5 separate regions of the Homo sapiens genome follow, and regions 1, 2, 4 and 5 are each linked to region 3. The links come from fine-mapping of genetic effects on gene expression. A gene starts in region 3. Each other region holds a variant in brackets. All regions are shown on one strand. Distances are from middle to middle. Region 1 overlaps MYH11 (myosin heavy chain 11). Region 2 overlaps NDE1 (nudE neurodevelopment protein 1). Region 3 holds the start of NDE1 (nudE neurodevelopment protein 1). Region 4 overlaps MYH11 (myosin heavy chain 11). Region 5 overlaps NDE1 (nudE neurodevelopment protein 1).

Region 1 (5,101 bases), 93 kb after region 3:
AGTAGGTACCATGGTGGTTTTAAAATCTATCCACAAGTTCTTTGCGACTCCAAAAAGGTGGAGCCTAATTCTCCTCCCCTTGAGTGGGGGTTAGATTTGCTTCTAACAACAACAACAAAAATCAGGAAGAAGTGATGGAATGTAACTTCAGAGATTAGGCTATAAAAGGCATTGCGGCTTCCTTTCTCCTCTCTCAGATCACTCCTTCTGGGGGAACTCTGCTGCCATATTGGAAGGACACTCAAGCAGCCCTGAGGGGAGAGGCCTTCATGATAAGGAACTGAGGCCTCCTCCAACAGCTGTGTGAATAAGCCAAGTAGAAGTGGGTCCTCCAGCCCCAGATGAGCCTTCAGATGACTGCAGCCTCAGCCAACACCTTGACTGCAACCTCAGGCCGGACCCTCAGCCAGAACCACTCACCTAAGCCACTCTCAAATTCCTGACTATGCAATACTTTTTATTTTTAGCTGCTGAGTTTGGCATGTTTTGTTATGTAGCAATAGCTAACAAATACAATTATCCTCCATTCAGGCTTGCTGTTAGGAGAAAAGGGGTTAGCACATGCAAGGCAGGGCAATAGAACAGAGTGGGCTCACTGTGTTCCAGTCCCAATCCCAGCTGTGTGGCCTTGATCAGATGACCAACCCTCTCCAAGCCCCCGTCTCATCATCTGTCCCAGCAGGGACACATATCCCTGGATGCACCTCCACAGGCCTGTGGTGAGGGTCAAGTGATTTGCTACCCACCACGGGCTGCCCCTGTGACACCTTACCAGCATCTGCTGGGCCATCTTCTTCCTTTCAGCCTGTAGCTGCTGGCCCCTGTCTTCCTCCTCCTCCAGGCGGGCCTCCATCTCATGCAGTATCTCCTCCAGCTCCTGCTTCTTGGCCGCCAGCCGCACCCGCATCTCCTCAGCCTCTGCATACAGCTCTGTCTCTGCCTGCAGCTGTTCCTGTAGCAGGTTCTTCTCCTCGGTCAGCTGCACGCAGGTGGTGGGGAGGAGGCGGGTGAGCCCCACGGGGCCAAGTCCTGTTCCCCAGCAACCCCAGCCATGCATCCATACAGGTACCTGCGAGTGCTTCTGTTCCAGCTCCTTAAGCTCATTCTCTGCCTTCTGCTGCCGCTCCTTGGTCTTCTGCAGTTCATCCTCCTTGGCCTGCATCTCCTCCTCCTGCCGTGTCACCTGCAGCAGTGGCTTCACCTGCACACACACGGTTAGCCCATCATTTGTTTTTGTGGCAAAGGGATATGTTGTCATAATAAATTCGATCAGTGGTTCCGAGCCAGGGACAATGTTGCCCCCACCGATCCCCACTAGGGGATATTGTCTGGAGACACTGCTGATTGTCACAGCTGGGGTGGGGGGTGCCTCTGGCATCCAGTGGGTAGAGGCCAGGGATACTGCTAAACACCCTACAGTGCACAGGACAGCCCCCACAACAGAATTAGTCACCCCAAAATATCAACAGTGGCAAGACTGAGGAGCTCTAAATCAGAGCACCAGAAAAGGTACAAAGTGAAAGGAAAAAGTCTCATCTTCCCCACTTTAGAACCATCCCAACAGAGAACTACTGCTGAAAAGTGATATTTCCTTCCAAGGACAAAAGGGAGAAAAAAAATCTTTCATATCCCACCCACCTCCCTATCAAAGTCATTATTAACATTGTTTACATTTCCTTCCTGGCTCTTTTTCTATGTTTAAAAAATAGACTTAAGACCATGCTGCCTAGTTGTAGAGGCTGCTTTTATTATTTAAAATTATATGATACAGACAGGAACAGTGATGCATGCCTGTAATCCCAGCATTTTGGGAGGCCGAGGCAAGCGCTTGAGCCCAGGAGTTTGGGACCAGCCTGGGCAACATCATGAGACCCCATCTCTACAAAAACAAGTAACCAGGCATGGTGGTGTGTGCCTGTAGTCCCA[G/C]CTAGTGAGGGGTCTGAGGCAGGAAGATCGCTTGAACCCTGCAGGCTGAGGCTGCAGTGAGCCACGATTGTGCCACTGCACTCCAGCCTGGGTGACACAGTGAGACCCTGTCTCCACAAATAAAATTTTTTTAAAAATTATAAGATATGTATTACCCCATGCTGTTACATCATTCTTACAACTTTACATAGCCATCTTTTAAGTTAATTTATTTATTTAGCGATGGTCTTGTTTTGTCACCCAGGCTGGAGTGCAGTGACACAATCATAGCTCACTGCAGCCTTGAACTCCTGGCCTCAAGCGATCCTCCCACCCCAGCTCCAGAGTAGCTGGGACTACAGGCACATGCCACAGTGTCCAACTAGACAGCTAGGTAGAAGTCTTTTTTTTTTTTTTTTTTAGCAGACCTATTCAGTAGCCAAAGCCATCATTTTAATAGCTGAAAACATTCCATTGATAGATGAACCATTATTGAACTCATCATTCAGCTAGGACTGGACACTGAAATTCTGCTATTGTAAATAAGGCCATAATGAATGCCCTTAACTCTTGATTTTCTTTTCTCTTTTTCAGGTGGAGTCTCGCCCTGTCACCCAGGCTGGAGTGCAGTGGCACGATCTCAGCTCACTGAAACCTCTGCCTCCTCGGTTCAAGTGATTCTCCTGCCTCAATCTCCTGAGTAGCTGGGATTACAGGTGCCCACCACCACACCTGGCTAATTTTTGTATTTTCAGTAGAGATAGGGTTTCGCCATGTTGGCCAGGCTGGTTTCGAACTCGTGAACCCAGGTGATCCTCCTGCCTTGGCCACCCAAAGTGCTGGGATTACAGGCATGAGCCACCACACCTGGCTAAGACGATTTTCTTAGGATAGTTTTTCAGAAGTTGGTTCAGTGGGGACGAACATTTCCAAAAAGCAGCATCTGCTGTCCTTCCCTGGGCTGCCTCCTAACTCTTTGTTTTCAAGCCCCTGCCTGGCACAAGGAAGCCCCTGCTATGTACTCCAGCAGCTTGCTTCATGCACTTATCACAGTTTGCCATTATGTATCTGTCTCTGTGATTATCTGTTTATTGTTTACTCCCCACCAATTCGGCTAGAATATTCATGGAGGTCAGGGACCATGGTGTGTGTTCACAGCTGCACCCCCAGCACCTAGCATGTGCCTGGGATACAGCAGGCACTCAATGTCTGTTTGCTTGGTGAAAAAGCCTTGCACCAGTGGATACACTCAAGGGCATATAAGGAGAAGCCTAGTCTATTGCAACAGAGCATGTCTTTGTGCCATGGGGACAATGCAACCAGTGCCACTACAGGAACCAGTTGAGTCCTCTGGAGGCCCTGACTCTGCCAGAAATAAAAAATAATATGCTATGGCCAGATGAGGTGGCTCATGCCTGTAATCCCAGCACTTTGGGAGCCTGAAGCAGGAGGGTTGCTTGAGGTCAGGAGTTCAAGACCAGCCTGGGTAACAGAGTGAGACTCCATTTCAAAAAATGCAAAAAGTAAAAAAAAAAAAACCTGCAGTATTGATACATGCAACAGTCTGGATGCTCTCTAATTCCATGTATAGAATATTTGTTTTATTTTTTTTTGAGACGGAGTCTCGCTCTGTCACCAGGCTGGAGTGCAGTACAGTGGCGCGATCTCAGCTCTCTGCAACCTCTGCCTCCCAGGTTCAAGTGATTCTCTTGCCTCAGCCTCCTGAGTAGCTGTGACTACAGGCGTTTGCCACCACGCCCAGCTAATTTTTGTACATTTAGTAGAGACAGGGTTTCACCATCTTGGCCAGGATGGTCTTGATTTCTTGACTTTGTGATCCACCCGCCTCGGCCTCCCAAAGTGCTGGGATTACAGCCGTGAGCCACCGTGCCTGGCCTTTTTTTTAAATAAAAAAAAAAAGAAAGAAGAGACAGAGTCTCAATCTTTCACCCAGGCTGGAGTGCAGGCATGATCTTGGCTCACTGCAACCTCTGTCTCCTGAGTTCAAGAGATTCTCCTGCCTTAGCCTCCTGAGTATCTGGGATTACAGGTGCCTGCCACCATACCCAGCTAATTTTTGTATTTTAAGTAGAGACAGGGTTTTGCCATGTTGGCCAGGCTGGTTTTGAACTCCTGACCGCAAGTGATCCGCCTGCCTCGGCCTCCCAAAGTGCTGGGATTACAGGCGTGAGCCGCCGCCCCCGGCAGCATTCTTGAACCATCAAAATTACAGAACTGGAGAACAGAGTGGTTTCCATGGCTACGGAGGAAGTGGGTGTGGCTATAAATGGGCCACACGAGGGATTCCAGTGCGGATGGAAATATTAATACTTTGTGTTAAGGTCCTGGCTATAGCCTATGTGCCAAAGGACAGGGCCTCCTCGGGCCAGAGAACCGCCAATGCTCAAGGTCTGAGTTCGAGCCCTCCATTCCACACCCACTTGCGACCACCTCCTGTCCCAAATGTGAAGGCTCCAGAGTGAAGAAGCAGGGCTGGGGGCCCCTGGGAAGGGGGCTGGGGCAGAGCACTCACTTTGGTGAAAAGCCTCCACCACTGCCAGTTCCGCAGCTTGAGGTAGGCGGCGCAGTTCCTCTGAATCACCTTCATGGCGGTCAGCTGCTGCTGCCTCTTGGCAAAAGCCCTAGGGAGGGGGGAAGAGAAGGTGCGGGGGTCATGAAGCCACACCCTGCTGTCAACAGAGCCCTGCCCTGCAGCATCCTGAACCTGCACAGGGACATGCCCCAATCTCCCCAACTCAGGTTCTTCCAGAAACCCTGTGTGACACATGTGTTGTCTGGCTGCAAACAACTTAAATCATCTACAGGACAGAGCCTTTTTCAGTGGACAAGGAAGACCCAGGGCTCACAACATGCCCTGGACTTAGCTGAGATCCAAACACCACTCAGAAAACACAACTATGTGCATCATTCCTAAGGGGGCTCCCGTACTCCCCAGCTGCACTAGCTGTTTCTTTTTTCTTTCTTTCTTTTTTTTTTTTTTTTTTTTTTGAGATAGAGTTTCGCTCTTGTTGCCCAGGCTGGAGTGCGGTGGCACGATCTCAGCTCACTGCAAACTCCACCTCCGGGGTTCAAGTGATTCTCCTGCTTCAGCCTCCTGAGTAGCTTGGATTACAGGTGCCCACAACCATGCCTGGCTAATTTTTGTATTTTTAGTAGAGATGGGGTTTCCCATGTT
Region 2 (5,084 bases), 78 kb after region 3:
GTCACCTATGAGTTGGGACCCTGGCCCTAGACTCTGTGGTTCTAAGAACTTATTTGAGCCCCAATGGTATTGACTGGGACCTGATCCCACTAAATGGATCCTAGATCCCTGCCAAGGTTGGTAGAGACAAAGCAGCAGGTCTGAGAGTCCAGACGAGGTGCTCTGGCTGGTCCACTCTCTAAGGCTGGAGAAGGGAGACCAGGATGGTACTTGAACGTCCCAGGGATGCTGTCCCATCCCTTCCTTCCTCACTCCTACTCTTTGACCCTGATGGCCAAAGCCAGAGACGCAGGCCCTAAAGGTAAAAACGTCCTCTCTGTATTCTCTGGCTTTTACTCCCTAGTGTCTCTGCATAAGTCCCTTTGAGGCTGTTAGCCTACCCCTCCATCTCTTCCATTGACAAGGAGGATATGAATGATCTTGACACTGCTTATATGAGGGCGGCAAAAGCCCTGCTCTCAACTGCATGTGAGAAAAAAACATCTCACTTAATTCTTCCCTCGCCCCTTGGTCCCTGGCTGTGGACATGTTAAACATTTGTGAAAACTTTGGCCACGTCCCCATGAGTGGCAAGGCAGGGTAAATGGCTATGCCAAGTGAAAGAAGACCAAAGACAAAAAGACCATGTCATTCAGCAGCTTAAAACCCCTCAACAGCTTCACATTGCCCAGAGTAAGGATCAACATACATGTAATAGGTTCTCAAAAGCCCTACATCATCTGGGTACAAGCTCCCCCTCCAACCCCACTCTGTACTATCTCCCCCTACCCCCAACCCCAGCTGGGCACTCCAGCTCTACTGGCTGTATGTCTCTCTCCTAATTTTTCTACTTACCACAGGGCCTTTGCACACGCTGTTCCCTCTGCCTGGTAGACTTATCCATGCTCCTTAGGGAAGCCTTTCGTGGCTCCTCCTCCCCCAGGTTAGGCCCCCTGGTTATTTACACTTGGGCATCATGTGCCTTCCCTTTGCTGCATCATTTGACATTCATTTGTGTGATTATTCATGTCTTTCCCTTCCCTTCCCTTCCCCTTACTCGGCTGGAGTCCTACTGGGGCAGCGACAGTGTCTCTTCTTCCTTGCTGTTGGATCTCAGGATTAAGCACAGTGCCTGGCATACAGCAGGTGCTCAATAAATACTTATCAAATTGGAAAAGGAAGGGTTTTTTTTCTTTTTTTTTTTTTTTCCTGAGACAGAGTTTTGCCCTTTTAGCCCAGGCTGGAGTACAATGGTGCGGTCTCCGCACACTGCAACCTCTGCCTCCTGGGTTCAAGCTATTCTCCTGCCTCAGCCTCCCGAGTAGATGGGACTACAGGTGCCCACGACCACGCCTGGCTAATTTTTGTATTTTTAGTAGAGACTTTTCACCATGTTGGCCAGACTGGTCTCAAACCCCTGACCTCAGGTGATCCACCCACCTCTGTCTCCCAAAGTGCTGGGATTACAGGCATGAGCCACCGTGCCTGGCCAGAAGGTTTTTTTAATATTTAATTGAACAGGGAGATCATCGCCTCTCCTCCAGGAACGCAACTAGAGGAAAGGACTTGCCTTGCAGCAAGAGAGACCTCAGCGAGCCGGGAAGAGGCTCCTCCCCACAGAACTGGGCACCACCCAGCACTGCCCACCACACCACCGCGCCACCTCCTCACCTGCAGCTTGTGGACTTTGTCATTGAGCTCCGCCCGGGCCCGCTCCCCATCGCTGCACTTGGACTGCAGCTCCTGCACCTGCGCCTCCAGCTTCTTCTTCTTATGTTCCACCTCCTGCTTGGCCTGGCCCAGGACCCGCAGCTCCCCGGCCAGGTCTGCGTTCTCTTTCTCCAGCGTCTGCTTATTCTTGTCTAGGTTCGCCTTGGCCTGGCGAAGGAAGCAGAGGGGAGGGATAACAGGGAGGCTGTGGCCGGGAGAACGTTTCAGGCCCTGCCCTTTCCTCCCTCAGAGAGGTCCAGGAAGGCACACAACAGGGGGCACACAATCACCAGTAAGAGATTTGGGGTTTTTTTGTTGTTATTTTTTTTTTGAGATGGAGTCTTAACTCTGTTACCCAGGCTGGAGTGCCGTGGCACAATCTTGGCTCACTGCAACCTCCGCCTCCCAGGTTCAAACTATTCTCCTGCCTCAGCTGCCCAAGTAGCTGGGATTACAGGCGCCCGCCACCATGCCCGACTAATTTTTGTATTTTTAGTAGAGACGAGGTTTCACCATGTTAGCCAGGCTGCTCTCGAACTCCTGACCTCAAGTGATCCACCCATCTTGGCCTCCCTAAGTGCTGGGATTACAGGCGTGAGCTGCCGCACCCAGCTGATATTTTGGATTCTATTTTCCTAAAGCTCATGGGTTGCAATCTGGAATCCCACAAGCGGTATCCAACCTGCTGACATGTCCCCTTTGACCCTTTCACTACTTTTAAAAAAATGAGTTGCCGACATTTTAATAAATGTCACATAAAAATCTGGATTCCCAGCTTCTTTTTCAAAAAACTTTAATGTTTGAAGGCATGCCATGGCAGCTCATACTTGTCATCCCCAGCACTTTGGGAAGCAGGCAGAAGGATCGCTTAAGGCCAGGAGTACAAGACCAGCCTGGGCAATGTAGTGAGACCCCCATCTCTACTAAAATAAAACATTAGCTGGGTGTGGGGGGCACACACCAGCAATCCCAGCTACTCAGGAGGCGGATGGCAGGCTTGCTTGAGCCCAGGAATTGGAGGCTGCAGTGAGCTATGATCACACCACTGCACTCCAGCCTGGGCAACAAAGTGAGACCCTGTTTCAGAAATAAGTAGCTTTGGGAGGCCAAGGCAGGTGGATCACTTGAGGTGAGGAGTTCGAGACCAGCCTGGCCAACATGGCGAAACTGCATCTCTACTAAAAATGGAAAAATTAGCCGGGCATGGTGGCGCACGCCTGTAGTCCCAGCTACTGGGGTGGCTAAGGCACAAGTATTGCTTGAACCTGGGAGGTGGAGGTTGCAGTGAACCAAGATCATGCCACTGCATTCCAGCCTGGGTAACAGAGTGA[G/C]ACTCCATCTCAATCAATCAATCAATAACTAACATTCTATGTGGTGACTGTGGTGGTGGTAGTTACACAATACACATTTGTTAAAATTAATGGAGCAGTAAAATGGATAAATTTTACTACATATGCCTCAGTAATCCTAAACTTAAAAACAAAAACAAAAAACCAACAACAACGAAAGATCTGGAAACAGAGGGTCTTGCTTTCCTTCAAGGCAACAATCTGCCACATCTAAGTAGCGGCTGGCTCTGCAGGTGGGGCAGTCACCTTTCACCGCCCCCGTCCTTCACAGGTGTCGTGTGATTGACACTGCTACTTCTGTCCTAGTTAAGGGAAACTTATTTTATGGAACCAGCTCCTGTAGGCATGTGAGTTGCCCTACAGGAAAAAAAAAGTGTGTTGGGGCCAGGCGCGGTGGCTCAGGCCTAGAATCCCAGCACTTTGGGAGGCCTATGCAGGCAGGTCACTTGAGGTCAGGAGTTTGAGACCAGCCTGGCCAACATGGTGAAACCCCGTCTCTACTAAAAATATAAAAATTAGCCGGGCATGGTGGCAGTCACCTGTAATCCCAGCTGCTGAGGAGGCTGAAGCAGGAGAATTGCCTGAACCCAGGAGGCGGGGGTTGCAGTGAGCCGAGATCCCGCCAGTGCACTCCAGCCTGGGCGACAGAGTGAGACTTTGTCTCAAAAAAAAAAGCGTGTTGGGCAAAAGTAGGACGCGGTGAGGGGCTTCTTTCCAGGTTGTAGAGAAGGGGAAAGAGAAGCGCAAGTATCCCGAGAGGACGAGACCCACCACTCAGTCTTCCCATAGTCCCTGGGAGGTGCTGGACGTTGACCGGTCAGCCCTGGATGCCCGTCCTCCCTCCAAGACATGACTAAGAGCTGCCAGACCTCAGATGGGGACAGGGAGTCTCTTGGTGGTAACAAAGCAGTGAAGCGGGGACCCTAGGGGACATGGGCTCCCAGAAACCTTAGCCCAGCCTAAGACCCCAGAACTGGGGCCAAACCGCACGAGGGCCTGGGGAGCCCAGGTAGGAGCTGATGTTAAACGTTTCCCCCACAAGCAGATGGAACCAGGTCTCTACATCAGAATTCAAGTTGTTAGAGGCAAAGGCCTCTGTTTCCCTGCACCTGAGATGGGCAGAGGTTTGCACCTCTACCTGCTTTGTGCGGGTCAGTAATGGACATGCCGTCTGCTGGTGGTCTTAATAACTGCGTCTTCCCAAAGAGGCCTGGCTGGGAATGGGCTTGGCTTCTAGCTCCTGTTCACGTCTAATGAACCCCAAGCATGGGGAGGGTCAGTGATTCTGTCTGGGGCCTCACTCTTCCAACCATAATTTTTTTTTTTTTTTTTTGAAACTGAGTCTCACTCTGTTGCCCAGGCTGGGGTGCAGTGGCACAATCTTGGCTCACTGCAACCTTTACCTCCTGGGTTCAAGTGATTTTCATGTCTCAGCCTCCCAAGTAGCTGGGATTACAGGCGACCGCCACCACGTCCAGCTAATTTTTGTATTTTTAGTAGAGACGGGGTTTTGCCATGTTGGCCAGACTGGTCTCAAACTCCTGACCTCAGGTGATCTGCCTGCCTCGGGCTCCCAAAGTGCTGGGATTACAGGCGTGAGCCACTGCACCCAGCCTAATTTTATGTATTTTTAGTAGAGATGGGGTTTCACTATGTTGGTCAGGCTAGTCTTGAACTCCTGACTTGGTGATCCGCCTATCTCAGCCTCCCAAAGTGCTGGGATTATAAGCATGAGCCACCGCGCCCGGCCTTTGGGGGCAGTTTCTAATGGTTTAGCACTATCCCTTTGGTGCTGCCCTCATGAGATCTGGTTGTTTAAAAGTGTCTGGCAGCTCCCCATTCTCTCTCTTCTGCCTGCTCTGGTCATGTAAAACATGCCTGCCTCCCCGTTGCCTTCCACCATGATGGTAAGTTTCCTGAGGCCTCCCCAGAAGCAGAAGCTGCTATGCTTTCTGTACAGCCTGCAGAACCGTGAGCCAATTAAACCTCTCTTCTTTAGAAATTACCCAATCTCAGGGTGGTGCAGTGGCTCACACCTGTCATCTC
Region 3 (5,101 bases):
TATCTTTAACATGGATACAATTTAATGCTTTCCTGTGGTTCATCACCTGTGGTTCAGTTGCATGGTCTCCTCTCTACAGTGGCCTTCCCTGACTATAGCATCTGAAGTGACCCCTCCCAGCCCGTTGTATCAAATGGGCTTGCCTTAGTCATAGCACTTATCAGTATCTGAAATGACGTTACTTTTTCTGCTTATAGATTTAGTATGTTTCTCTCTTAACAATATAAGCCCTTTGAGGACAGGTACTTTGTCTGACTGTATTCACTGTGCTGTAAGGGTGCATTGTACAGAAGAATGCTCATAATGCCGGGTGCTGTGGTTCATGCCTATAATCCCAGCACTTTGGGAGGGAGGCTGAGGCAGGAGGATCACTTGAGCCCAGGAGTTCAAGACCAGCCTGGGCAACATAGTGAGATCCACGTCTCTACAAAAAAATGTAAAAATTAGCTGGGCGTGTTGGTGCACACCTGTGGTCCTAGCTACTCCGGAGGATGAGGTGGGAGGATCACTTGAGCCTGGGAGGTCCAGGATGCAGTGAGCTTTGATTATGCCACTGCACTCCAGCCTATGTCACAGGGTGAGACTCTGTCTCACAAAAAAAAAAAAAAGCTGGATAATAATATATATATTTTTAGTTTTTATGGGTACACTGTAGGTGTTTATATTTATGGGGTACATGAGATATTTTGATAACAGGCATGCAATGCATCATAATCACATCAGGGTAAATGGGTGTCCATGACCTCAAGCATTTATCCTTTCTTTGTGTTACAAGCACTCCAATTATACTCCTTTAGTTATTTTAAAATGTACAATACATTGTTGTGGACTGTAGTCACCCTGCTGTGCTCCCAAATACTAGATCTTATTCATTCTAACTCTATTTTTGTACCCACTAACCAGAATGTTCGGTATTTGTTAATGAACATGTTATGACAGGATGTTTTAGAAGAAAATAAAGAAAAAAAGAAATTCCAGCCAAGCATGGTGGCTTGATTTTATTTATTTATTTATTTTGAGATGAAGTCTCCCTCTGTCTCCCAGGCTGGAATGCAGTGGCGTGATCTCCACTCACCGCAACCTCTGCCTTCTGAGTTACATGGCTCACGCCTGTAATCCCAGCACTTTGGGAGACTGAGGTGTATTGCTTGAGGTCAGGAGTTCGAGACCAGCCTGGCCAACACAGTGAAACCGTGTCTCTACTAAAAATACAAAAAATTAGCTGGGCGTAATGGTGGGCGCCTGTAATCCCAGCTACTAGGGAGACTAAGACAAGAAAATCGCTTGAATCTGGGAGGCAGAGGTTGCAGTGAGCCGAGATCGCACCATTGCACGCCAGCCTGGGCAACAAGAGGGAAACTCTGTCTCGAAAAGAAAAAAATTATTTTTTAATTTTAATTTGTTAGTGAACAATTAGGGTTGCTGTGAGAATTGTGCCTGGCACACACAGCCATTTAAAAATCACGATCTTCAGGCAGTGTGTGGTGGCTCACGCCTGTAATCCCAGGACTTTGGGAGGCCGAGGTGGGTGGATCACCTGAGGACAGGGATTCGAGAGCAGCCTGGCCAACATGGTGAAACCCCGTCTCTACTAAAAATATAAAAATTAGCCGGGTGTGGTGATGCGGGCCTGTGATCCCAGCTACTCGGGAGGCTGAAGCAGGAGAATTGCTTGAACTCAGAAGGCAGAGGTTGCAGTGAGTGGAGATCACGCCACTGCATTCCAGCCTGGGAGACAGAGGGAGATTTCATCTCAAAATAAATAAATAAACAAAATCAAGATCATTTAACAAATACATATATTGTACTTACTAAGTTCAAATTTCTGTTCTAAACGTTTTTACAAATGCTGTTAAGTCATTTAGTCCTCTGCATAATGTCGTTTGTTTGTTTGTCTGTTCTTTAAGACGGAGTCTTGCCCTGTCGCCTAGGCTAGAGTGCAGTGGTGTGATCTCGGCTCACTGCAACCGCCACCTCCCGGTTTCCCGTGATTCTCCTGCCTCAGCCTCCTGAGTAGCTGGGATTACAGGTGCGTGCCACCACATCCGGCTAATTTTTTGTATCTTTAGTAGAGACGGGGTTTCACCATGTGCCAGGCTGGTCTTGAACTCCTGACCTCGTGATCCACCCGCCTTGGCCTCCCAAAGTGCTGGGATTACAGGCGTGACCACCGCGCCAGACCCATAATGGCGTTTTATAGATGGGGAAACGGAGTCATAGAGGCTAAACAACTTTCCCAAGACCACACAGTTAGTAAGGGGCAGGACTAGGACTCAAAGCCAAGTTTATGACCAAATTCTGGTGCACTACGTTCTCCTGCTTCTGGAGAAGATAATGATGCTGAAGATTCTACTTTTGGTGTAAAGGAGTAGGAAGGGCACGGGGCACTGCTAGCTTCAGTGGGCCTGAATCTTTGTCTTTCCTTCTGATTTGGAGAAAGTGCAAGAATGGGAAAATGCAATCGAAGTGAAGGAGAGGCCGGCGTATTTTCCTGAAATGCGCGGCCCGCAAGCCCAAACCCGTTTCCCGGGTGTCCAGGCAGCGTTCTGCAGCATCTCCAATGCCCGCCAGCCCGCCGCAGCCCAGCGCCCGGCAGCCGGCGCCTCTCAAACCCCCTCCGGCCAGGAGCCTTCGCCGCTTGGCCGCGCCGCGCCCGGCCTGGGAAAAAAGTTTCCAAACGACGCTGCTCTGCGCTGATTGGCCGAGGCGGACGCGGTACCGTAGAGCAGCAGCCAATGGGAGGCGCCGACCGCAGGCTCCGGGGCGGGGGCGGGGTCCGGAGGGCCGGGGCCGCACCGCCCTTCGCAGCCGCCTCTGCCGCCGCCGCCGCGTTGGCCTCGCCGCCCCTGCTCGGGTAAGTGAGGCGCTGCGCGGGGCTGGGGTCGGGGTGGCTGTCCGGGGACCTCCACCGCGGCTGAAAAGCTCCTCTGCCCCGCCCCAGGATCCCGGGACCCCGGGCCACCGCCTGGCAGGGACCCCTACGCCCCTCGCTTGCGCGTCGCTTCCCGGCCGCCTGGACTCCCCCGGTCCCTGGGCTCCAAAATCCCGCCTCCCTGGAGCCTCCCGTCCTAAAAAGTTAGGCACTGAGTGCCTTGCCACCGGTGCGTTCCTCGCGCTGGCCCCTCGCCCTTGGCAACTTTGTTTCTCTTTCTGCGTTGGTCTCTCTCCCACCCCGTTGCCCTCTTCTCCTTCCGGGACTTCCTGGGTGGTTAAGCCTTGCCGGTCCCCAAACCCCGCTGCCAGGCTCCATCCTCTTTCTCCTCTTCCTTCCTCCCCATACTCCTCTCCTAGATGACCCTCGTTTCTTTTCTCTCTCTCTCCTATTCCTCCATCCTGCCACCCGCTTCTCTGCGACCCCAGACCCCTCGATTGCAGCGTTGCCCCTGCCCTCACACCCACTGTCCCGCCCCTGCAGGCCTCTTTCCAAAAACCCACCCTGCTCCCTCCCTCCGGGAACACGTTTGGGGCAGTCTGCTCTCCGCTTTGCTCCCGTCTCTGCCGCAGGACGGTTCAGGTTTCTTCTGACAGCACTTTGGGGAGGGATTGGGTAAAGGACGAAAATGCTTATTCCGCAGCTTGAGTGATGGCTGGGCTCACTGAGGACCTGAGTCTCTGAGGTCCTGGGAAACCCCGCTGTCACCTTGACACCGCTTTTGGGGAGGCGACTTTATCTTCTCCGAGCCATCTCAGGCTTTCTGCCTCCTGAGGGCCTGAGCTTCCTTGATTGCTTTGTCCGTGGTTACTACCAGGTTGTGCCTCTTAATTTCTACTTTGAGCCTCAGGCCCCTTTTAACTTTCTAAAGAAAAGGCCTTTGCAGCACGACCTAGGCAGGTTCATCATTTTTAGTTTTGTTATAGTGTATTCTAGCATAGGATGGCATTTTAGGACATGGGTCGGGTGTTTTGAAGATTAATTAGATCCCAGCTACTCCTAAAGCCTCTTGTTACCCGACCACCCCAGCCTCCATCACCTCGTTGGTATACAACCCGTTTTTTTTTTTTTTTTTTTGTTTTTGTTTTTGAGACAGAGTCTCACTCTCGCCCAGGTTGGAGTGCAGTGGTGCGATTTTGGCTCACTGCAACCTCCGCTTCCCGGGTTCAAGCGATTCTCCTGCCTCAGCCTCCGGAGTAGCTGGGACTACAGGTGCGTGCCACCACGCCTGGCTAATTTTTTGTATTTTTAGTAGAGATGGGGTTTCACCGTGTTAGCCAGGATGGTCTCGATTTCCTGACCTCGTGATCTGCCCCCTCGGCCTCCCAAAGTGCTGGGATTACAGGCGTGAGCCACCGTGCCGGCCTACAACCCATTTTGAGCCTTTCCTCTTAGTGTGTGTTTTGTGTAGGATTAAATGCAGATGATCTGTGCCGCTGAAGTCTCAGGGGCCTGTGATTCATATATTTTATCCCATGTTGGATAACAGTTTATTAACTTGACTTATTTTTGTTTCCAAAGTGTGTTATTTATTATTTATTTATTTATTTATTTTGAGACGGAGTCTTGTTCTTGTCCAGGCTGGAGTGCAGTGGCATGATCTCGACTCACTGCAACCTCAGTCCTCCGGGTTCAAGTGATTCTTCTGCCTCACCCTCCTGAGTAGCTGGGATTACAGGTGCGTGCCACCATGCCCGGCTAATTCTTAGTAGAGATGGGGTTTCACCATATTGGCCAGGCTGGTCTCAAACTTCTGACCTCGTGATCTGCCCACCTCAGCCTCCCAAAGTGTTGGGATTACAGGCATGAGCCACTGCACCCGACTCTATCATTATTATTATTTTTTATGTAGAGGCAGAATCTTGCTTTGTTGCCCAGGCTGGTCTCAAATTCCTGGGCTCAAGCAGTCCTCCTGCCTTGGCCTCCCACAGTGCTGAGATTACTTGCAGGCATGAGCCACTGCATGCAGCCCAAAGTGTGTTCTTTTGCCTTAGAATGTGAGCCGAGAATTGACACTCCTTTTCCTCACAAGGTAATTTCCTAACATGAGCATTCCTGTGTACAGAAAGTTTGTGCCTGCAGTTAGTACTACACGTGCACCTCGTGCAATGGATGTGGGTGCTTTTTGTCTGCCTCCTTCAGCAGTGCCCAGCACTTAGTAGGTATTCA
Region 4 (5,101 bases), 86 kb after region 3:
GTCTGCTTCAGCCTCCCAAAGTGCTGGGATTACAGGCATGAGCCACCATACCTGGCCCATGCACTGGGCTCTTCTGTATCAAAGGCCAAGCGGCAAGGGAGCAGAACGCTGTGCTCTATGTGCATGTGACACTGCACAAAACCCAAAGTGGGGGAAGTAAACCCCAGGGTATATGGTGTTGGCACAGCTAGCATAGCTATATGCTATGATACATGCTATGCCAACACCACAGATTGCATCAAAATACATTTATGTGTTTACTGAATGAATCAATGACCTAGTTTCACTAGAGTCAGGATTCGTGATCTGGCAGGCAGTTTGTTATTGTTTGTTCATTTGAAGTGAATCTTCAATTGAAAACCAATCTGATCAATTTTATTTTTAAAATTTAACACAAAAGTGATACACACACATACTTGGGAATTGGAGCTTGGGGACTGACTGATACACACACAGACAGGAAGGAATTTCTCAAGAATGTTAACTGGTGTGACTAAGGGTGATTTTTTTGTTTTTTGTTTTTTTTTGAGATGGAGTCTCACTCACTGTGTCACCCAGGCTGGAGTGCGATGGTGCGATCTCAGCTCACTGCAACCTCTGCCTCCCAGATTCAAGTGACTCTACTGCCTCAGCCTCCTGAGTAGCTGGGATTTACAGGCATGCGCCACCACGCCCAGGTAATTTTTGGATTTATAGTAGAGACAGGGTTTCACCATGTTGGCCAGGCTGGTCTTGAACTCCTGACCTCAAGTGATCCACCTGTCTTTGGCCTCCCAAAGTGCTGAGATTATAGGCGTGAGCCCGACCCTAAAGGTGATTTTTTTTTATGTCTGCTTTTCTATAGTTTTCAAATTGTTCTCTGAGTATATCCAAGCTTACCAATGAGGATGGTTTTGAATGCAGCCTGACACAGAGTCATAAACTTTCTTAAAACAGTATGAGATGTTTTTTCCAATTTGTAAAATTTTTTTAGTTGATCAGCTATTATTAGTGTTAGTGTATCTTATGTGTGGCCCAAGACAAATCTTTTTCTTCCAATGTGGCCAAGGGAAGCCAAAAGATTGTACATCCCTGGTATATACTACTCTTCTGATGAGAAATAAGATGATGAGGGTCGGGTGCAGTGGCTCACACATGTAATACCAGCAGTTTGGGAGGCGGAAGTGGGTGGATCACTTGAGGCCAGGAGTTCAAGTCCAGCCTGGGCAACATGGCAAAACTCCATCTCTACTAAAAACAAAAAATTAGCCGGGTGTGGTGGCACATACCTGTAATCCCAGCTACTCAGGAGGCTGAGGCATGAGAATCGCTTAAATCTCAGAGGTGGAGGTTGCAGTGAGCCAAGATGGCACAACTGCACTCCAGCCTAGGCAACAAAGCCAGACTGCCTCAAAAAAAAAAAAAAAAGAAAGAAAAAAAAGAAACAGCCAACCATGCTTCTATAAGTTAAAGCAAACCGCGGCCAGGAAGGTAAATGCACAGGGGCTGATGCACGATTTGCTTTGGGTTTGTCCCCTCTTCTGCCCCCATCCCATTGGTGCAGTGGGATAGCAGGATGGTGGGATTGATGGGCCCCTCACCTGAGCTCCTGCTGAGTGGCTGTGCTGTCCAGTGTGTCTTCCAGCTCTGTCTTTAGGGCCTCCAGCTCCTCGCCGAGGTCTCGCTTCTGCTTTTCAGCCTTGTTCCTGGCGGCCCGCTCTGAGTCCAGGTCCTCCTGGAGGTCTGAGATGTGGCCCTCCAGCTCCCGGATCTTCTTCAGGGCATTGTTCTTCTGAGCGATTTCATCGTCAAGCCTTCCAGGGAGAGACCCAGCAGAATGAACCCCCAGGTCCCTTGGTTTCCTCTCTTACAATGTGGCCAAAAACTTTTCTGGGACCAGACAGTTATGTTGCAGAGACATCAAACACCTTCTATCCATGTCCCCAGGTCTGCTTCTTGACATGCCAGACTATATGAGATTAACATAGGATGTGAGTGCCAAGGTCTGACATCAAAACAGGTTGTACATGTGCATGGGTGTGTGTACGTGTGTATGCACGTGTGTGCATGTGTGTGCAAGAATGCAAAGCATTGACCCCAGACTGGCAAGGTACCTGGTCACAGTAGGGACTGTGTAGATGCTTTCTGAATGTTGGACAGTTCTTCTTCCCTGGCAACTGTCTGTTCTTTCTGCATTTGCTCAGTGACTGAGTACCCGCCCCATGCACAGCATTTGGCCAGCCACTGCTTGCGGGGGATATTCAGACTGGGGCTCTGCATCTGGTGGAGGTGGTGACCAGAGATCAAGGTGGGCTGCAAGAAGCCCTGTTAAATGGCAGAATGCTGCAGGAGAGGCAAGCACTTTGATTTTACTGTACTTGTGAAAGGGCAGCAACAAGAGAGAAAGTGAAATAGTTGGGTTGGGGTGAGACTGCAGAGGGTGGATGGGCTCTGAGGGTGAGGCTAAGGAAACTGGATTTTCCCTAGTAAGCCAGTGAAGTTAGGTTTTTGTTTTGTTGTTATTATTGTTTTGAGACAGGGTCTTGCTCTGTTGCCCAGGCTGGAGTGCAGTGGCATGATCATAGCTCACTTTAGCCTCAACCTCCTGGGCTCAAGTGATCCTCCCATCTCAGCCTCCTGAGTAGCTGGGACTACAGGCACACACCACCATGCCTGGCTCATTTTTTAACTTTTTGTAGGGACAGGGTCTTGCTATGTTGCCCATGTTGGTCTCAAACTGCTGGCCTCAAGCAATCCCCCCACCTCGGCTTCCCAAAGTGCTGAGATTACAGGCGTGAGCCACTGCATCCAGCCAGCAAAGTTTTGTGAGCAGGTTCCTGCCCCAGAGAGATGCTTTCCCTTCATCACCGTAGCACTGTCAACATAGCACAAATTGGCCGACAAAAGAGCCAGGCCAGGGGATCAATCAGAAAGCTTTGAGGCTTAAATCCCAGCTCTGCCTCTTAGAAGCAATGACATTGCTCCTGTTGCGTTACCCCTAGGAGGCTCAGCTTCCTCCTCAAAGACACCGGCAGTACACCTGGCCAGGTGTCTGCAAAGGTATTGCTTGAAAAGAACTTAGCACCGAGTGAGCAGGTAAATAATCATTCATA[G/C]TGGCTGCTGCAGTATTAGCATTAGTGTAAATCCAGCTAAGAGCCAGGAAGAGGGAAAAACCAGAGGAAATGGGTGGGGGACATTTAGAAGGACTGGCAGAATCTGAAGGTTGCTGCTTGCTGTGGGTCGGCAGAAACAAAGGAGGAGATTGGTGTTCACAAAAAAGAGGGCCCTTAGAGGGAGGGGCTGGGGAAAGGAAGGTCATTCCCGCCTTAGACAGGGGTGTTTGAGATGACGGTGGAAATTGACTCATTGGGCAATCGGAAATTCAGAAGGGGGTCTAGATGAGAAAAGCCTGGATGTCGAAGAGGCAGCAGCAACACCATGGGAGTAGGTGAGATCAACTGCAAAGACATGATGTGTTTGCAGGGAAGAGAAGAAAGTCGAAGGTGAGGATCTGGGGGAGTGAACAGGGTCGAGAAGGCTTGTGGGAGGCCTGGCCTGGGAAACGAAGTTCATGCCAAGGGCCTGGGGCCGCCTTGACCAAGACAGCCACTGCGAATGAGCGAATGAGCAGGGGCCCAGGGGATACATGGACACACAGCAAATGCCCCTTGCCAGCCCCGCTACCTGGCCAGGGCCGCCTGCAGCTCCTCCTCCTTCTTGGCCAGCTGCATCTTGAGCTCTGCGATCTGCGCCTGGAGGTCAGCGATCTGCTCGTGGAAGTCGCTGGCATCACCCTCCAGCTTCCGTTTCAGCTTCTCCAGCTCCTGTCGGCTCTTCTCTTCCTTCTTTAGCCGCACTGCAAAAACCAAGGTGCTCTTCAGGAAGGGGAGGCCCCAGAGAGATGCCCGGAAATGAGCCTTCCTGCCCAGGCATTTTACCCGGAGGAGATGAACACATCCCCCAATCAGTAACCATCATAGTCACGGTCTGGACCATTATCTCCCGATGAACAGCACCTTATATTGTCATAATATTATTATTAGTTGAGATGGAGTTTTGCTCTTGTTGCCCAGGCTGGAGTGCAGTGGCGCAATCTCAGCTCACTGCAACCTCCGCCTCCCGGGTTCAAGCAATTCTCCTGCCTCAGCCTCCCGAGTAGCTGGGATTACAGGCGCCCGCCACCACGCCTGGCTAATTTTTGTATTTTGAGACAGGGTTTCACCATGTTGGCCAGGCTGGTCTCCAACTCTTGACCTCGTGATCCGCCCACCTCGGCCTCCCAAAGTGCTGGGATTACAGGCGAGAGCCACCGCACCCAGCCCTTTTATCATATTATTAGTGCATGTGATGACTAAGGGTGATTTCGAGAGGTGGCATAGAGTTAGTTGTCACTCATGGGATGATCTGCCATCCTCAAATTTCCTTTCTGATTTTCCTGCTTTTAAAAATACCCATTCAAGCCCAGGAATAGTGGCTCATGCCTATAATCCCAGCACTTTGGGAGGCCAAGGTGGGAGGACTGCTTGGGCCCAGGAGTTTGAGACTAGACTGAGCATCATAGTGAAACCCCATCTCTACAAAATAAAAAATAAAAAAAAATTAGCTGGGTGTGGTGATGCACGCCTGTAGTCTCAGCTGCTCAGGAGGCTGAGGCAGGAGGATCACTGGAGCTTAGGAGTTTCGGGCTGCAGTGAGCCATGATCGCACCACTGCACTGCAGCCTGGGCAACAGAGCAAGACCTCATCTCTAAAAAAAATAATAAAATAAAATAAAAATAAATCTCTTGGTAGCTGGTTTACCTTCCAGTTCTGAAATCATAGATTCATGCTTGTTTTTCAGCTTGGTAAGATTCTTGGCCTTTTCTTCCTCTTCTGCAAGATTTGTCGTTAAGTCACTAATCCTCTCCTCAAGGAGTTTTCGTTCCTTTTTGGGGAAAGAGAAAGAGATAGCTTTAGGATTTTTCTTTTCTCTAGAATCTATGTTTCACTTTTAGTGATTTCCATGTAAACAGTTGAAAGAAAAACCCACATTATAACAAAATACAACTAGAGTTTTAAATGGTAAAGAGAAGTCCCATAACAATTTCCAAAAACTGGCCATTTCTCATCTCGTGCCAGTTTG
Region 5 (5,101 bases), 46 kb after region 3:
ATGGTGGCTCACGCCCGTAATCCCAGCACTTTTGGAGGCCAAGGCGGGCAGATCATTTGAGGTCAAGAGTTCGAGACCAGCCTGGACAACGTGATGGAACTCTGTCTCTACTAAAAATACAAAAATTAGCCGGGTGTGGTGGCACATGGCTATAATCCCAGCTACTCAAGAGGCCAAGGCAGGAGAATCGCTTGAACCTGGGAGGCGGAGGTTGCAGTGAGCTGAGATCACATCACCGCACTCCAGTCCGGGTGACAGAGCAAGACTAACATGTAAAAATAAGTATTTGTTGCAGTCATCACAAGGACTTGAAAAATTGGTTGTCATACGGGCCTTGGGTGTGTGATGCGGTTAACTACGGAAAGAAATAGGGTAGCTTTTGGGATCCGAGGAAAGGCGTCAGTGTCCCTCCTGTCCCGTGGTTTTGGATCTAGCGATGTTAACGCACAGACATGACTATAGGTTGGTGAGTTACATGCTCTTCCCTTTGCACACCCAGGCCTGGACGACTCCACCGGGGGGACCCCCCTCACACCTGCGGCCCGGATATCAGCCCTCAACATTGTGGGAGACCTACTGCGGAAAGTCGGGGTAAGACCACACTTTCCTGGCGTTTGGTGCCTTCCTGCCTGTCTTTCAGGATGTGTGAAGGGGGTTGATCTAGTTCCTTCCCTCTCTTCTTTTTTTCTTTTTTTTTAGAGACAGGGTCTTGCTCTGTTGCTCAGGCTGGAGTGTAGTGGTATGATCACAACTCACTGCAGCCTCAAAATCCTGGGTTCAAGCGATCCTCTCACCTTAGCTTCCCGAGGAGCTTGGACCACAGGTGTGCGCCACTATGCCTGGCTGATACTTTCATTTTTTTGTAGTAATGTGGGTATCGCTGTGTTGCCCAGGCTGGTCTTAAACTCCTGGCCTCAAGTGATCCTCCCAGGTTGGCCTCCCAAAGTTCTGGGATTACAGGCATGAGCCAATGCGTCCAGCCCCTTTCATAGCAGTGTGGTGAGTTTTAGGTGTGGCTGCTCCTTTAGCATCCCTGGGAATCATTAGAGCTTCCTGTGGGAGTTACTGCCAGACACTCAGAGCTCTGACTCGAAGCCCTGCTCTGAACCCTATGTATGTCTCTTTCCTTTTACCGTTTTTCCTCTAGGAAATTTGGGAAATTAGGGTGATATGTGTGTTTTTTCCTTAACTCGAAAAATTAAGGAGCACTTGGAAACTGCCTTCTCTTTTGGCCGGGTGCTCATACCTGTAATCCCAGTGCTTTGGGAGGCCAAGGTGGGAGATTACTTGAGCTCAGGAGTCTGACACCAGCCCGGGCAACATGGTGAAACCCCCTGCCCCGACTTGGCCTCTACAAGAATGCAAAAATTAGCCAGGCCTGATGGTGTACACTGGTGGTCCCAGCTACTCAGGAGGCTGAGAGGTGGGAGGATTGCTTCAGCCTGGGAGGTTGAGGCTGAGTGAGCTGAGATTCCAACACTGCACTCCATCCTGGGTGACAGCACGACGTTGTCTCAGAAGAGAAAAAAACTGCCACCTTTTTTTTTTTTTTTTTTTTTTTTGGTTTGTTTCTTGGGGTTTAAGTGAATTTTGACACTTTGGGAGACCGAGATGGGTGGATCACCTGAAGTCAGGAATTCAAGACCAGCCTGGCCAACATGGTGAAACCCCATCTCTACTAAAAATACAAAAATTAGCCAGGAATGGTGGTGGGCACCTGCGATCCCAGCTACTTGAGAGGCTTATGCAGGAAAATTGTTTGAATCCGGGAGGCGGAGGTTGCAGTGAGCTGAGATCGCACCGCTGGGTGACAAAGTGAGACTTGGTCTCAAAAAAAAAAAAAAAAAAAATCTTGAAAGCCTAGGGCAAAGAATTTGGCCTTTCAGCTTTTATGTTAATTACAGGGAGGGATCCTTTTGTGCTTAAGTAAAAACATAGGTATTCTTTGTAGTTTATTTTTAAAAATGATGCCTAGAAGGCCACATAATTTAACTCCTACCAAGTTGTCACTGTACACAGTGTATTTGTAGCTACAACTTAATAGAAGCTTGCAACTCATTTCTTTTGTTTTTACTTCTGGTTTTTGGCTGTCTGGTTTGCTATTCTAGAAGCAGGTCTGCATTTCAGTATTTAGCCTAGTTGGAGTATAGAGAAGCCTGGGGTGCTGTCAGTGTCCTTTTGGTTTCCTCAGGGTCTGTTGTAGCCAGACCAAGTCCTTACCAAACTTCTTGCCATTCTGCAGAGGTTTAACAAGGTAAACCAAAGGGTGAAGGATTCCAGAAGTGGATTTCCTACTTCCTACAAGCGGAGTTGGATAATTGGTAGGTTAGTGATTTTTCCAGAAAGCTCCCATTTTAAAAAATTTTTTGTAATTAAAAAAGA[ATT/A]TTTTTTTTTTTTTTAAGCCAAGCATGATTGTGCATAGTCCTAGCTATTCAGGAGGCTGAGGTGGAAGGATTGGTTGAGGCTGCAGTGAGCCGTGATCTTTTTCCAGGCAGCTCCCAAACATTTTAAAAAATTTTTCGTAATTAAAAAAAATTTTTTGCATTAAAAATTTTTTTTATTAACTGGGCATGATTGCGGATGCCTATAATTCCAGCTGCTCAGGAGGCTGAGGTGGGAGGGATTGGTTGAGCCTGGGAGGTTGAGGCTGCAGTGAGCTGTGATCTCACCAGTGCACTCCAGCCTGGGTGACACAGCGTCTAAAAAAGTAAAAAACAAAACAAAAAAAAAAACTGAGATGGGATCTTACTTTGTGGCCCAGGCTGGTCTCAAACTCCTGATGTCAAGCCATCCTCCTGCCTTGGCCTCCCAGAGTGCTGGGATTATAGGTGTGAGCCATTGTGCCCAGCCAGCTCCCAAATACTTAAGGTGCTTGGTTCTGAGACTGGCATATACGTTGGATTCCTCTTGGGGTCCCACCTTGGAATTCCAGTGCACAACAGTTTGAGAACCACTGTCTGGGGTTCGTTCTTCTGTACAGGCTCTGGTAAGACAGAATAGTCCTTGCCTATAACTTGAGAGATAAAAGTGTATTTCTGTCCAGGCACTGGAGTCCAAACTCGCTTCCTGCCGGAACCTCGTGTACGATCAGTCCCCAAACCGAACAGGTGGCCCAGCCTCTGGGCGGAGCAGCAAGAACAGAGATGGCGGGGAGAGACGGCCAAGCAGCACCAGCGTGCCTTTGGGTGATAAGGGGTCAGTACCTTCTAATAAACCTCTCGCTGGCGGGGAGAACCCGCCTGCCCCAGGCAAGAGACACTCACCCCCAGCCCACAGCCATGTGTCTTTTTAAATTATAGGATTATTTCAGCAAACCTTATCCTCTCCTCTGCTCCCTGCAGGCAGCATTAGGTGGTGTCTTGTGGCTTGAACAAAGGGCTAGAGAGAGGGTCTTGTTTTGTGAGACAGGGTCTCACTCTGTCACCTAGGCTAGAATACGATGGCAGGATCATGGCTCACCCTCTGCCTCCCAGCTCAAACGATCCTCCCACCTCAGTCCCCCGAGTAGCTGGGAGTACAGGTGCGTGTCACCGTGCTCGGCTAATTTTTTGTATTTTTTCTAGAGACAGGTTTTGCCATGTTGCCGAGTTTGGTCTCAAACTCTGAGCTTCAAGTGATCCTCACCCTTCATCCTCCCAAAGTGCTGCGACGACAGGTGTGGGCTACCATGCCTGGCCAAGAAGGTCATTTTTATCATTTGATTCTACAGCTGCTACTCACGGTTACACTGTGAGAATGTCCTGTATAAAAGCCCTTATTTGGGCCAGGTGTGGTGACGCTCGCCTGTAATCCCAGCAGTCTGGGAGGCCAAGGCAGGTGGATCACTTGAGGTCAGGAGTTCAAAACCAGTCTGGGCAACATTGGTAAAACCCCATCTCCACCAAAAAAAATAGAAAAATGAGCCAGGCATGGTAGCATGTGCCTATAGTCCCAGCTACTCAGGAGGCTGAGGAAGGAGAATCACTTGAACCCTGGAGGCAGAGATTGCAGTGAGCCAAAATTGTGCCTCTGCACAGCAGCCTGGGTGACAGAGCAAGACTCCATATCAAAAAGTTAATTAATTAGTTAAATAAAAATAAAGCCCTTATTTGGGGAATTGAGCATCAGTCATGGCTCTGCTTCCCCTGAAGTTTTTTTTTTTGTTTTGTTTTGTTTTTTTTTTGAGACGTCTTGCTCTGTCGCCTAGGCTGGAGTGTAGTGGCATGATCTCAGCTCACTGCAACCTCTGCCTCCCAAGTCCAAGCAATTCTCCTGCCTCAGCCTCCTGAGTAGCTGGGATTACAGGCGTGTGCCACCATGCCCAGCTAATTTTTTGTATTTTTAGTCGAGACGGGGTTTCACTGTGTTAGGATGGTCTTGATCTCGTGACATTGTGATCCACCCACCTCGGCCTCTCAAAGTGCTGGGATTACAGGCGTGAGCCACTGCAACCAGCCCTTTTTTTTCTTTTTAAATCTGTAGAACCTTTGAGAAACTGGCACTAACTTCTAGCCCAGACTATGTTCCTGAAACCAGCCACCCGATGGGACAGTGCAGATCTGATCTCTAACAGTGTCATTAATTTTCTTGCCTAAAGAAAATCAGGGCCAGGCTCAGTGGCTCACACTTGTAATCCCAGCACTTTGGGAGGCTGAGGGCAGCGGATCAATTGAGCTCTGGAGGTTGAGGCCGCAGTGAGCCGTGTTCCCAGCCACTGCACTCCAGCCTGGGTGATGAAGCGAGACCTTGTCTCAGAAAAAAAAGGGGCAGCTTTCAGATTCAGGAATTCTGCAAGGTGTGTGACTACCATCTCTCTGGGCCCCAAGCCGTAGGAATTTGATGGGTTTGTAGCAGACACGTGACAGGAAATTAAGAATATTTTCCATGGCATGCACATAACTTTGAGACCTTTACACGTGGATTTTTAGGCCAGGTGCAGTGAAGTGGCTCACACCTGTAATCCCAGCACTTTGGGAGGCAGAAGTGGGTGGATCACTTGAGGCCAGGAGTTCACAAGACCAAACTGGGCAACATGGTGAAACCCTATCTATACTAAAAATACGAAAATTAGCCGGGCATGGTCGCGGATGCCTGTAGTCCCAGCTGCTTGGGTGGCTGAGGC

What was found. PIP is the estimated chance that this variant, and not a neighbour inherited with it, causes the effect.
Region 1: its variant is the best candidate, but not a certain one, in a credible set for the expression of NDE1 in whole blood (TOPMed, PIP 0.80).
Region 2: its variant is the best candidate, but not a certain one, in a credible set for the expression of NDE1 in lymphoblastoid cells (GTEx, PIP 0.73).
Region 4: its variant is the best candidate, but not a certain one, in a credible set for the expression of NDE1 in whole blood (INTERVAL, PIP 0.90).
Region 5: its variant is the best candidate, but not a certain one, in a credible set for the expression of NDE1 in monocytes after Pam3CSK4 (Quach 2016, PIP 0.59).

What each region holds. Positions count from the first base shown.
Region 1 is chr16:15,740,691-15,745,791 of GRCh38, forward strand. It overlaps MYH11 (myosin heavy chain 11), which reads right to left. Exons shown (of 41, transcript NM_002474.3): 20 at 4,439-4,547; 21 at 1,070-1,201; 22 at 773-979. Among named protein-coding and RNA genes, the nearest start is that of NDE1, 93 kb to the left of the region's middle. The variant G/C (reference allele first, on the strand shown) is at 1,927.
Region 2 is chr16:15,725,198-15,730,281 of GRCh38, forward strand. It overlaps NDE1 (nudE neurodevelopment protein 1), which reads left to right. Exons shown (of 9, transcript NM_017668.3): 9 at 1-1,156. It overlaps MYH11 (myosin heavy chain 11), which reads right to left. Exons shown (of 41, transcript NM_002474.3): 28 at 1,651-1,857. Among named protein-coding and RNA genes, the nearest start is that of NDE1, 77 kb to the left of the region's middle. The variant G/C (reference allele first, on the strand shown) is at 3,021.
Region 3 is chr16:15,647,441-15,652,541 of GRCh38, forward strand. It overlaps NDE1 (nudE neurodevelopment protein 1), which reads left to right and starts at 2,805. Exons shown (of 9, transcript NM_017668.3): 1 at 2,805-2,854. RefSeq lists enhancers at 2,506-3,007, 3,008-3,507.
Region 4 is chr16:15,733,786-15,738,886 of GRCh38, forward strand. MYH11 (myosin heavy chain 11) reads right to left here. Exons shown (of 41, transcript NM_002474.3): 24 at 4,780-4,903; 25 at 3,664-3,835; 26 at 1,581-1,793. Among named protein-coding and RNA genes, the nearest start is that of NDE1, 86 kb to the left of the region's middle. RefSeq lists an enhancer at 2,637-3,393. The variant G/C (reference allele first, on the strand shown) is at 3,093.
Region 5 is chr16:15,693,666-15,698,766 of GRCh38, forward strand. NDE1 (nudE neurodevelopment protein 1) reads left to right here. Exons shown (of 9, transcript NM_017668.3): 7 at 500-591; 8 at 3,044-3,195. Among named protein-coding and RNA genes, the nearest start is that of NDE1, 46 kb to the left of the region's middle. The variant ATT/A (reference allele first, on the strand shown) is at 2,383.